Regions from separate parts of the Homo sapiens genome. Here region 1 is linked to region 2. The links come from fine-mapping of genetic effects on gene expression. Tissue or cell type: unexposed skin. Region 2 holds a variant in brackets; the other region holds the start of a gene. All regions are shown on one strand. Distances are between the middles of the regions.

Region 1 (4,000 bases), 150 kb after region 2:
GGAGCCTGGCAGGGCGTGGGAATGAGCTGACAGCAGCAGTCATGGGTGCACCACTAGCACCAGTACGCTTGCCCTGTGACCGCTCTCTCTGCTCTGGCCCTGCAATCTCCTCCTTGGCCACCCTGGAGAACTGCTCCAGCAGGTGCCAGCCTGGCAGGGGCAGCTGAGAAGAGCCTGGCTATAGGGAATAGGTACATCTTGCCAAAATGCTCACAGCACCCCACCCACCACAGTTAGAGCTGTGCTCCAGTGTTTGCTACATCAGCACTGTTTCGCATGTTCAGAGGGGTTGGAGCGTTTGTCCCAAGCTTCCAAGTAGCAGAGTGGGGATAAAAACCCAGGGTTGCTGGCCTCTACCACCGTGATCTTTACTGCTGCACACTCCCTCCAGCTAAGTAAGATATCCTCTCCCATTTCTTCCCCATGGAAACCTTCCATGGCCAGGACCTTCCATGGCCAGGACCTGCTCCAGGACCTCTTCCCAGACTGCTGCGGCCCCCACCTGCCTGTCCTCCTCTCTATCTGGGCCCTGAATCCCCTGTGCTGTCCAGATTCCCACAGATCATCAAGCCTCACCCTGTCAAGGCCCAGCCTTTCCTCTGGTGGCACAAAGAGGCTGCATGTCCCTCCTTCCTGGGGAGGGGACAGCCTTTTCCTGTATTCCGAAGATTGCCATAGCTACCTGACACGCTAGTAGTGTTTAATCTACTTGGATCAAAAAAATTTGGAGAATGGAAGAAAGCATCCTTTCTCCAGAAAAATAAGAAACCTGGTTTAGGAAAAAGAAGGTGTGGACTAATTTGTGGCCAAGGACAGCAGAGCCAGGCGACCCACACTTGGACCCTAGCGGCCTGGGCCAGTGAGCAGAGACCAGGGCACCACCCCCTGCAAGAACTGTCCCCTCTCCCCGCACCCCCCGGGTCCTTAAGGGGTGGAGGGGGAGGGCCATGGGGGCTCAGTAAGCCTCGGCCTGGGCCTCTGGGCGCGCTTGCCGCTGCGCGGGCGCGGGGCGGCTGTCACACCACCCTGGCCGGGTCCCGAAAGGGAGGAGTGGAGCTTGCCCGCCTCCGCGAGCCTCCGCGCGCCCAGCCTTCCTCCACCTGCCCGGCGTGCCCAGGGCGCTCCCAGCGCTGGAAGCCGGGGGCGCTTGCCCGAGGCGGGAGTCGCTGGGTCATGCTCTTGCCCACCAGGTCCTCCGAATCCCTGGTAGGGCAGCGTCTGTCCGTGTCCCCGACCCCTCCCGCAGGCAACTCGCGCGAACCTGGGGCTCGCAGAGAGCGAGCGCCCGCGGACACCGGCTGAACAGTCTGGAGGCTGCGCGAGGGGGCGCCGCGGGGAGGGATAAAAGCCAGCAACAAAGAGCACAGACCTCGTCCAGCAGTTGATTGACTCGTCCCAAAATAGCCGTCTCCATTTGCTGCTCCCCGCGCTCCGCTTCCAGGCGCAGCACCCGGGCCTGCAGCTCGGCCGTCCGAAAGTGGGCGAGCAGGCTGAGTGCCAGCGAGCAGAGGGCCAGCGTCAGCAGCCCGCACGACCCTGGACTCGGCAGCCGTGCGCCGCGCTCCGCCCGCGCCGCCACCAGAGCCACCGTCCCGGGCGCGCCCAACTCCCCAGGGCCGCGGGCACCGGTGGCTGCCGCTTTGTGGGTGCGCTCCGCTACCATCCTCTCGCGTCTTGAGAACCAATAAATAAATAAATAGAATAAATAAAGGCGACAGCCGCTGCCAAAAGGCTCTATCCAAACTGCGGGGCAGGGGGAAAGGGCTTGTATCGCTGGAAAACGTCCCTTTCCGCTGCTCCCGGCAAAGAGGACGGAAAAATTAGCAGTAGGAGAGGAAGTGCCGAAAAAGCACAACCAGCGGTAATTGGGGTACACCTAGGTGAGAAAAAAGTTATTTCGAAGAACGTTCCAAGTCCAGGAAAGTTAGGGGAATCTGACCGGCTCTCCTTCTCTCCGCCCAGTCTTTCCCTTCAAGTGTCTGCAGAGCAGTTGGTGCCGCGCTGTCAGTCCTTCTGGGCGCCTCGTGTCTCCCGGGCCAGTCAGTTTCAGTCCCCGGGCGAAGGGGCGCACACGGAGGGCCCCATGGGCAGAGGTGGGTCGTGGCGGCTGGCGAGGAGCGCAGGGGCCGATTCCGGCGCCTCTGTAACTTGACACACTCCCTGCGGCGGCACGGATCGGATGAGCAATCCGTGCTACTTCCCAAACTAATCTCTCCCTCCCCCCTCCCTCCTCCTCCTCCTCCTCGTCACTCCTCCTCCACCTCCCGCGGGGCCGACGGCTTGGATTTGTTTATTTATGCAAACTCGCCCAGGGTGGGGGGCGTGGTGAGCAGGTCCGGCGGCCCCAGCCCGCCGGCCCGGGAGCCCCTCTGCCGCGCTCCCCGTCCTCTTTGAAGTGACACTTGGGGTTATTTATAGGCAGGAAGGGGGTGTGGAGTGGAGCTGGCGCTGCACTTCCCTCTCTTTCTCCGGATTCACACCGAGGGCTCGTTTGGCCTTCCACGGAGGCGGTGAGGCGGGCACCACCTTCCATGGACGCGTTGGGGCAGGCACCACTCCACCTTTCCCAGCCCTTGAGACCCTCCAGGAACTCGACTGAGTTATTGTCAGGGCTTGTGGGTGGATCTCCACGTCCTGATCAGGACTACCTGATCCCTTCAGCCACCGCTCCTCTACTCCCAAGCCCCCAACCTCTTTCCCCTTCCTTCTCCCCCGACAACCGACTCCCCGGGGGCTCTGTACCTCCTGAGATCTGCAGCTCCTCCAGTGCCGGGCGGCCAACCACATCTTTACTCTGGGGTGAAAAGTCAGCCCTCCAGGGGGCAGCAGAGCTGGCAGCCCTTCCTCTCAGGACCAAGACCTGAGGTAGTATGAGACACTGAAAACGGAGGAGATCTTATTCCAGGTATCTGAGAGGTGGCTCATTGGGGCCGCCTGCCAGTCCTGACATCTCCCCTTCTTGCCTGCCATTAATCTGAGACCCATGCCATCTATCCCTGTGTGGTGAGACCAGCCTGCCTCAATCATCCCAGTCATCAAAGGTGAGCAATTCCTACACAAACTCAGGTTCCATCCCTGCGGGAGGCTTAGGGCTAACCAGGCTCTCTCCTGTTGTCATTTCCTATATTCCACTAGAGAAAAACTGGTGGCCTGAAGGGCATTTGGTAGTTTTCTCTCTTCTCTTGTCACCTCCTCCACCCCCCACATTAAGTAGCATTTGTATCCCAAGAGACTTTATCTCCTTGTGCCTGTTGACATTCCTGTGAATGAGGTGGTGGGACTGAGTTTTTGGGAGAAAGCCTGTCTTCCTGGAACAGCGGGCAGAGGAGAGTAGACTGGGTTTTCAAATATGCAGTGGAGGTGGGGGCAGCAGTGGTGCTGGGATTCCATTTCAAAATAACAAGGCATGCCAGTACAAACTTCCCATTTTCTATATTGACCTGATGGAACTTGATATATAATACAGTGTCACTGCACTTCTAATAAAGTGTGGCACACTTAATAGTGCATATTGGACTTGTAACATAGTAAGTACTGAGATCATATGTAATAAAGGTAACATTGACTGCTGGGCCAGTCAGCCACTATGGAGGACAACAGGAATAGAAGGCGATGCTGCTGAAAGAGCCCGTGGCCAGGAGCTCTGGGTTCCAGTTCCAGTTCTAGGATTCTCCTGATGGCTTCAGTGGCAAGGGCACTCTGTTTTCTCCATCCCTGTGATGGGATGTCCCAGTCCACTCTACAGAGGAATGAATCCTTGGGAGACTTGGATGGTATTGAAGAACACCAGGGGGCGTTGGAGAGTTTCTGCACTGGGAGGTACAGGCCAGGAAATTCAGGGACTTTGGACTTCCCCCACTCCCCTCCCAGGCTAGTCTGAATGGAGGAACTGAGGTGGGGAGTTAGTTTCATTCCCTCCTTATTCTGCAAACTGATCTTTTCCCTTTCAGGACTTTGGAGGCCCTCAGGAATGCTCAGGCAGTGAAATCTAAACAGTTTG
Region 2 (4,256 bases):
ATGTGCACAAATATCATGCAGACATTACGACCAAACAAAAAATGTATTAGAGACATAGGCTTATACAAAACATCTTGTAAACAAAAGGGAAGAGGTTGATATTTTCTGTACAAAATATGCAGGTTTTTCTTTCTTTTTTAATAATCTGTAAGATGCATCATACTTCTGGCATTTTCAAAAAGTGAAAACTGTATAAAAATAAATATTCTATGTACAAACACACACACAGGCCAATCCAAGGTTAGAGGCATCACTGCAAAACAAAAACAAAACAATGTTCTGTTAGTTTCAGTGGGTCTGCAGAGGTTTATTTCCTTTGTAGGAAGGGAGGTAAATCTTGTCCTGGGTTGGATGGGAGTTCTGGACAGGAGAACTGTGGGAACCCTGAGCCCCTAGGTGAAAGAAACTGGTGGCGACCTTAGCTCCCTGAAGGGAGGAAACCAAGTTCACCTCTCTGTGAATCCCCTTTGTGGTCACTAGAGGGCACTCTCTTTCTCTGCTGCCTTTGGAGGCCTGATTGTTGTAACCACTGCATTGTCCCAGATTGGACTTAAGGTGTGAATGAGTAGTCTTGAAGCTCTCTGGTTGCTTCTCCAAGACATTGCAGCTCTTGGTAGTGGCTGTTCTTCCCCTGCTAAGCACAACCATTTCTGTCTCCTAACCATTGGCAGCAACTTTAAAGAGGAAATTTTTTTAGGGGTCAAGGGTTCAGAGGTCTTATGACACCTCTGACCTGCTTTTGTGGCGCTTTAACTAGGTCTAAGTGGAGCTTGGCAGGAGGACGAGGCCAGCCTCCAGGGATGGATTCTGGGGAGGCATCTCTCTTGAGTGTTGAGCTTTTCCTTCTTGGGTTAGGGGGTGCTTTAGGTATCCAGGCAGGTAGGTGGTCAGCGTTGGCCTGGGGTCTTGGTGGTTTCACCACTTTTACCCAACCCAGTGCACTAGTGAGATTCTGGCATCTTAGTACAGGGGAGCTTGTTCATCTCATTGTAAGTGTGACTCTGCTGCCACTGGAACAGGACTGGATTCGTTGAGCACAGATTCTTGAACATGTTGGAGTCTCCGGTCCCTTTATGAGGATGAACCTTGAGACAATGGTGGTGGGGGGTTGGTGAGAAGACTTGGAGTGACAGGCAAGGTGGAGGGAGACGGTATGGGGCAGCATAGTGGCTGCCACCATTGCTGGGGACCAAGGCGGGTCTTCTGGATTAGTTAGCAAGCAGATGGCCTCTGTCTGCCTGGGCAGCCCTGTGCTCTGGGGAGCCATGGTTGAATGGGGCGATCACATGCAAGGGCACAGTCCTATGATGTCAGACTGCTCTAACAATGGCAAATGCCAAGGCCAGTGTGAATCAATGAAAACTCATTGTTGGTAGGAACTCTGGGAGCCCAGGAGAGATTTGGCTGCAGGTCACATGTGTGGTGGCATGAAGCTCTGCCAGCTTAAATGCAAGGGGAGTGGTAGAGTGGTGAGGAGCACAGCCCCTAGGGGAGGCACAGTAGCATGTGAGTTCAGAGTGAAAGCAACTGAGATGTCCTACGTCTAAGACATGTCATCACGTGGCATAAACGACCTTAGAGGAACTCTATGAGTGTGATCTGGAACTCCTTGGGGAAGTTCCTTGGGGGAAAGACACTATGTACATTGAACACACAAAGCATAAAGATGTCACCTGTGTGGCTGCATGGACATTCCGCCTAGGGTTTACTGATGTTCTAAGAAGCATTTTAAAATGTTTGTTAACAGCATGCAGTGTATGGGATGTTTAATGGGCACCCTGCCTTTGAGACAGTGACTATTTGACCTATGTCTTGCTGCCTCATCTGTAGCAAGGCAGAATGGAAATTGTGGAAGCTTTATGGCACTGCTGAGAACGGAGCCCCAGTGCACACCAATGGGAAGCCTTACCTTGTTCCAGCAGCCTTGGACTGGTAAGCCATCTTCGCCCTGCAAGGAGAAAGGAAGGCAGAGGGCTCAGACTTCCTGCAATGGTCCACCAAGTGGGCAGGACAGGGGTAACAAGGGCCACACGCATTTTGGCAGCTGATCAGGATGTGGCCCACCCACGCTTGTCTATTTCTTTTCTCTACTACAGGTCAGAACCTCAGAAGGAGGTGGAAACAAATCCGGCTATTTTACCATTGGTTAAAGGTCACATGCAGCTATAGTGCAACGTCAATAGGGGCTGTCCTAGCCCGTGGGACCAGCAAGCAGAGATGTCCTTCCGTGCCACGAAGAAACAGTCTCTGCTGTGGCCCTATGGAGTGCCGGCTGCTCACGGGTAAGCCACTCAGCACAAGGCGGCCTCAGTTTCCTCCTCCATAAAACCTTGGCAAGGACAGTTGCTTGATGTGACCGCTAAGGGCCTTCCCAGCCTTCTCATTCTCTTATTTGTCTCTCTTCCTAAGCACAGGGAGGAGGACATGTAGACAGTCCTTCTTTGATGATTAATCCTGGGGTGGGGTGAGGGGCATGAAGGGACAGGCAACCTCATGAGTATTGCAGGATGGCCCTGA[C/G]ATGCCTTTGGCAAGAAGACAAGGGTTCCTGGCGAAGCCTTAGACCTTGCTGGGAATTTGGGGGTGAAGTGCAGTAAAAACATGGGAATCAACTGCACACCGTCGGTCTCCTTTGTTGGTAGCAACCATGCAGCTCCTTTAGCCTCAAGATGTTCGTGTTCTGCCCTTGGTGATAGAAACTTTCCTGAGTTTTCTTGGGCCCTCATATCCTCTCCTTGCTGGCATACCCTATGGGGAATCTAGAAATCTAGAGACCCAGTGGGGAAGGCGAGGCTGGGCCAAGGGCAAAGGTCTGGTTCTCAGCCCAAGTCTGCTAGACTGGCAGGGCAGACAAGGAGATGGACATGGGGCTTCAGGAGACCCGGAGCAAGTGCTCAGTCCTGAGGGAGCTTGTGGAATGAGAGTCCTCTGCTGCCCTGGTCTGACGTCATCCACCCACGCCAGGGGCTGAAACCTCTCATCACCTGGCATTCAGCAGAAATTGGTCCCAATATGGAGGGCTTAGGAAGTCTGGTTATCTTGTAGTAAAAGTCATGAGCAATAGCTACCCCTGCCCCTCAAGCCCATAATAACACAGAGGAGGAGGCAGAGTGAGAAACAAGGGGAAGACACTTCCCCAGTAAAATTAATAGAAAATTGACACATTGATATGGGATGTTATGGAAGAAAATGCCATTTTACATGGAGAGTCAAATCAGGGTGACCTTCATTTTCCCCTCTGGGTTGGGGAGGGGATTGCAGGGGGAGGAGGTGCATTCCACAGTTTCAGGGTGACCCTGTGCCCCTTCCCCAGCCTGCCACGGTGCGGTATGACACACGTCACATGGATGCCGGGAGGGAGAGGAGCCTCTGTGGGCCAGAGCGGCATTCCCATTGGTGTGTGGATGGTGGCAGGGGGATATGGAGGGCAGGGCAGGCAGAGAATGAAAAGTAATGTATGGTGAGGAACAGAGAGGCCAAGGCAGCTGCTGGCAGAACTAAAGGTGCCCAGATTGTGGGAGGGGATTGTGGCTGAGGGAAGACCTGGCCAGTGCTCAAGGGAGCCCCTGCGGGCCAGAGCGGCATTCCCATTGGTGCGTGGATGGTGGAAGTCCTGGTTGAGAAAGGTGGCTGTGCAGTCTGCAAGCGCAGGGTTTGGCAGGACCAGCAGGGACAGGAAGCATGCTACCCGCCTGCTTGCTCTGCACTCTCCTTTTGTTGCCTATGCTCCTCCTAAAAAGTCCCTACTGCCCTTCAAGGGGCTCTACGACCACCTTTCAGGGTCACACAGCATAATTTCTTGTATCTTTTTCTCTTTTGTTCAAAGAGAATTCCTGTGTGACCCCAGGGCGGGGATGTGAGACCCCAAATTCTCTTATTACTGGTATGATAAAATAGCTCTTGAACTCCAAACCTATTGGGGAAATTTGGGGAGAGCTGTAACCCCTTGAGCCTTGGAGTGAAGTGTTCCCTTCAGCTTCTTTTGCAGTAAGAGGATCAGCGTGGAGGCCTAGACTGTCCATGCCTAGAGAGGGACTGGGCAGGCGGGAATAAACTGCTACCACTTCGCCTGGGACGTGCTTGGAAGAGAGGTCCTTAGCTGTCTCCCTGCCTCCTCCTTAACTACATTCTTGACCTTTCCGTCTCTCCCAGACTCTTCAGTAAGAAGCCATCTGATCATGAAAGAAAGGGACGAGGAAGGGTCTGGTAATGTCTTTGGAGATTTAAGCAAGAAGGACAAACCCTTTAGGATCCGAAAA

Direction of the effects. Alleles are on the strand shown, and positions count from the first base shown. SD is a standard deviation of normalised expression in the study named.
In carriers of allele C in region 2, the expression in unexposed skin of the gene that starts at base 2,181 in region 1 tends to be higher than with G alone (small effect, 0.20 SD a copy in GTEx).

Evidence for each region. PIP is the estimated chance that this variant, and not a neighbour inherited with it, causes the effect.
Region 1: COL13A1 starts here. The variant in region 2 is fine-mapped to the expression of COL13A1 in unexposed skin (GTEx, PIP 0.95).

What each region holds. Positions count from the first base shown.
Region 1 is chr10:69,800,087-69,804,086 of GRCh38, reverse strand. COL13A1 (collagen type XIII alpha 1 chain) reads right to left here and starts at 2,181. Exons shown (of 41, transcript NM_001368882.1): 1 at 1,370-2,181. The coding sequence starts at 1,663. LOC124902444 (a long non-coding RNA gene) reads left to right here and starts at 2,316. Exons shown (of 2, transcript XR_007062179.1): 1 at 2,316-3,041; 2 at 3,951-4,000.
Region 2 is chr10:69,954,696-69,958,951 of GRCh38, reverse strand. COL13A1 (collagen type XIII alpha 1 chain) reads right to left here. Exons shown (of 41, transcript NM_001368882.1): 40 at 1,910-1,948; 41 at 1-253. The coding sequence ends at 251. LOC107984242 (a long non-coding RNA gene) reads left to right here. Exons shown (of 4, transcript XR_007062181.1): 3 at 2,097-2,282; 4 at 3,974-4,057. Among named protein-coding and RNA genes, the nearest start is that of LINC02636, 52 kb to the left of the region's middle. RefSeq lists a silencer at 2,064-2,133. The variant C/G (reference allele first, on the strand shown) is at 2,518.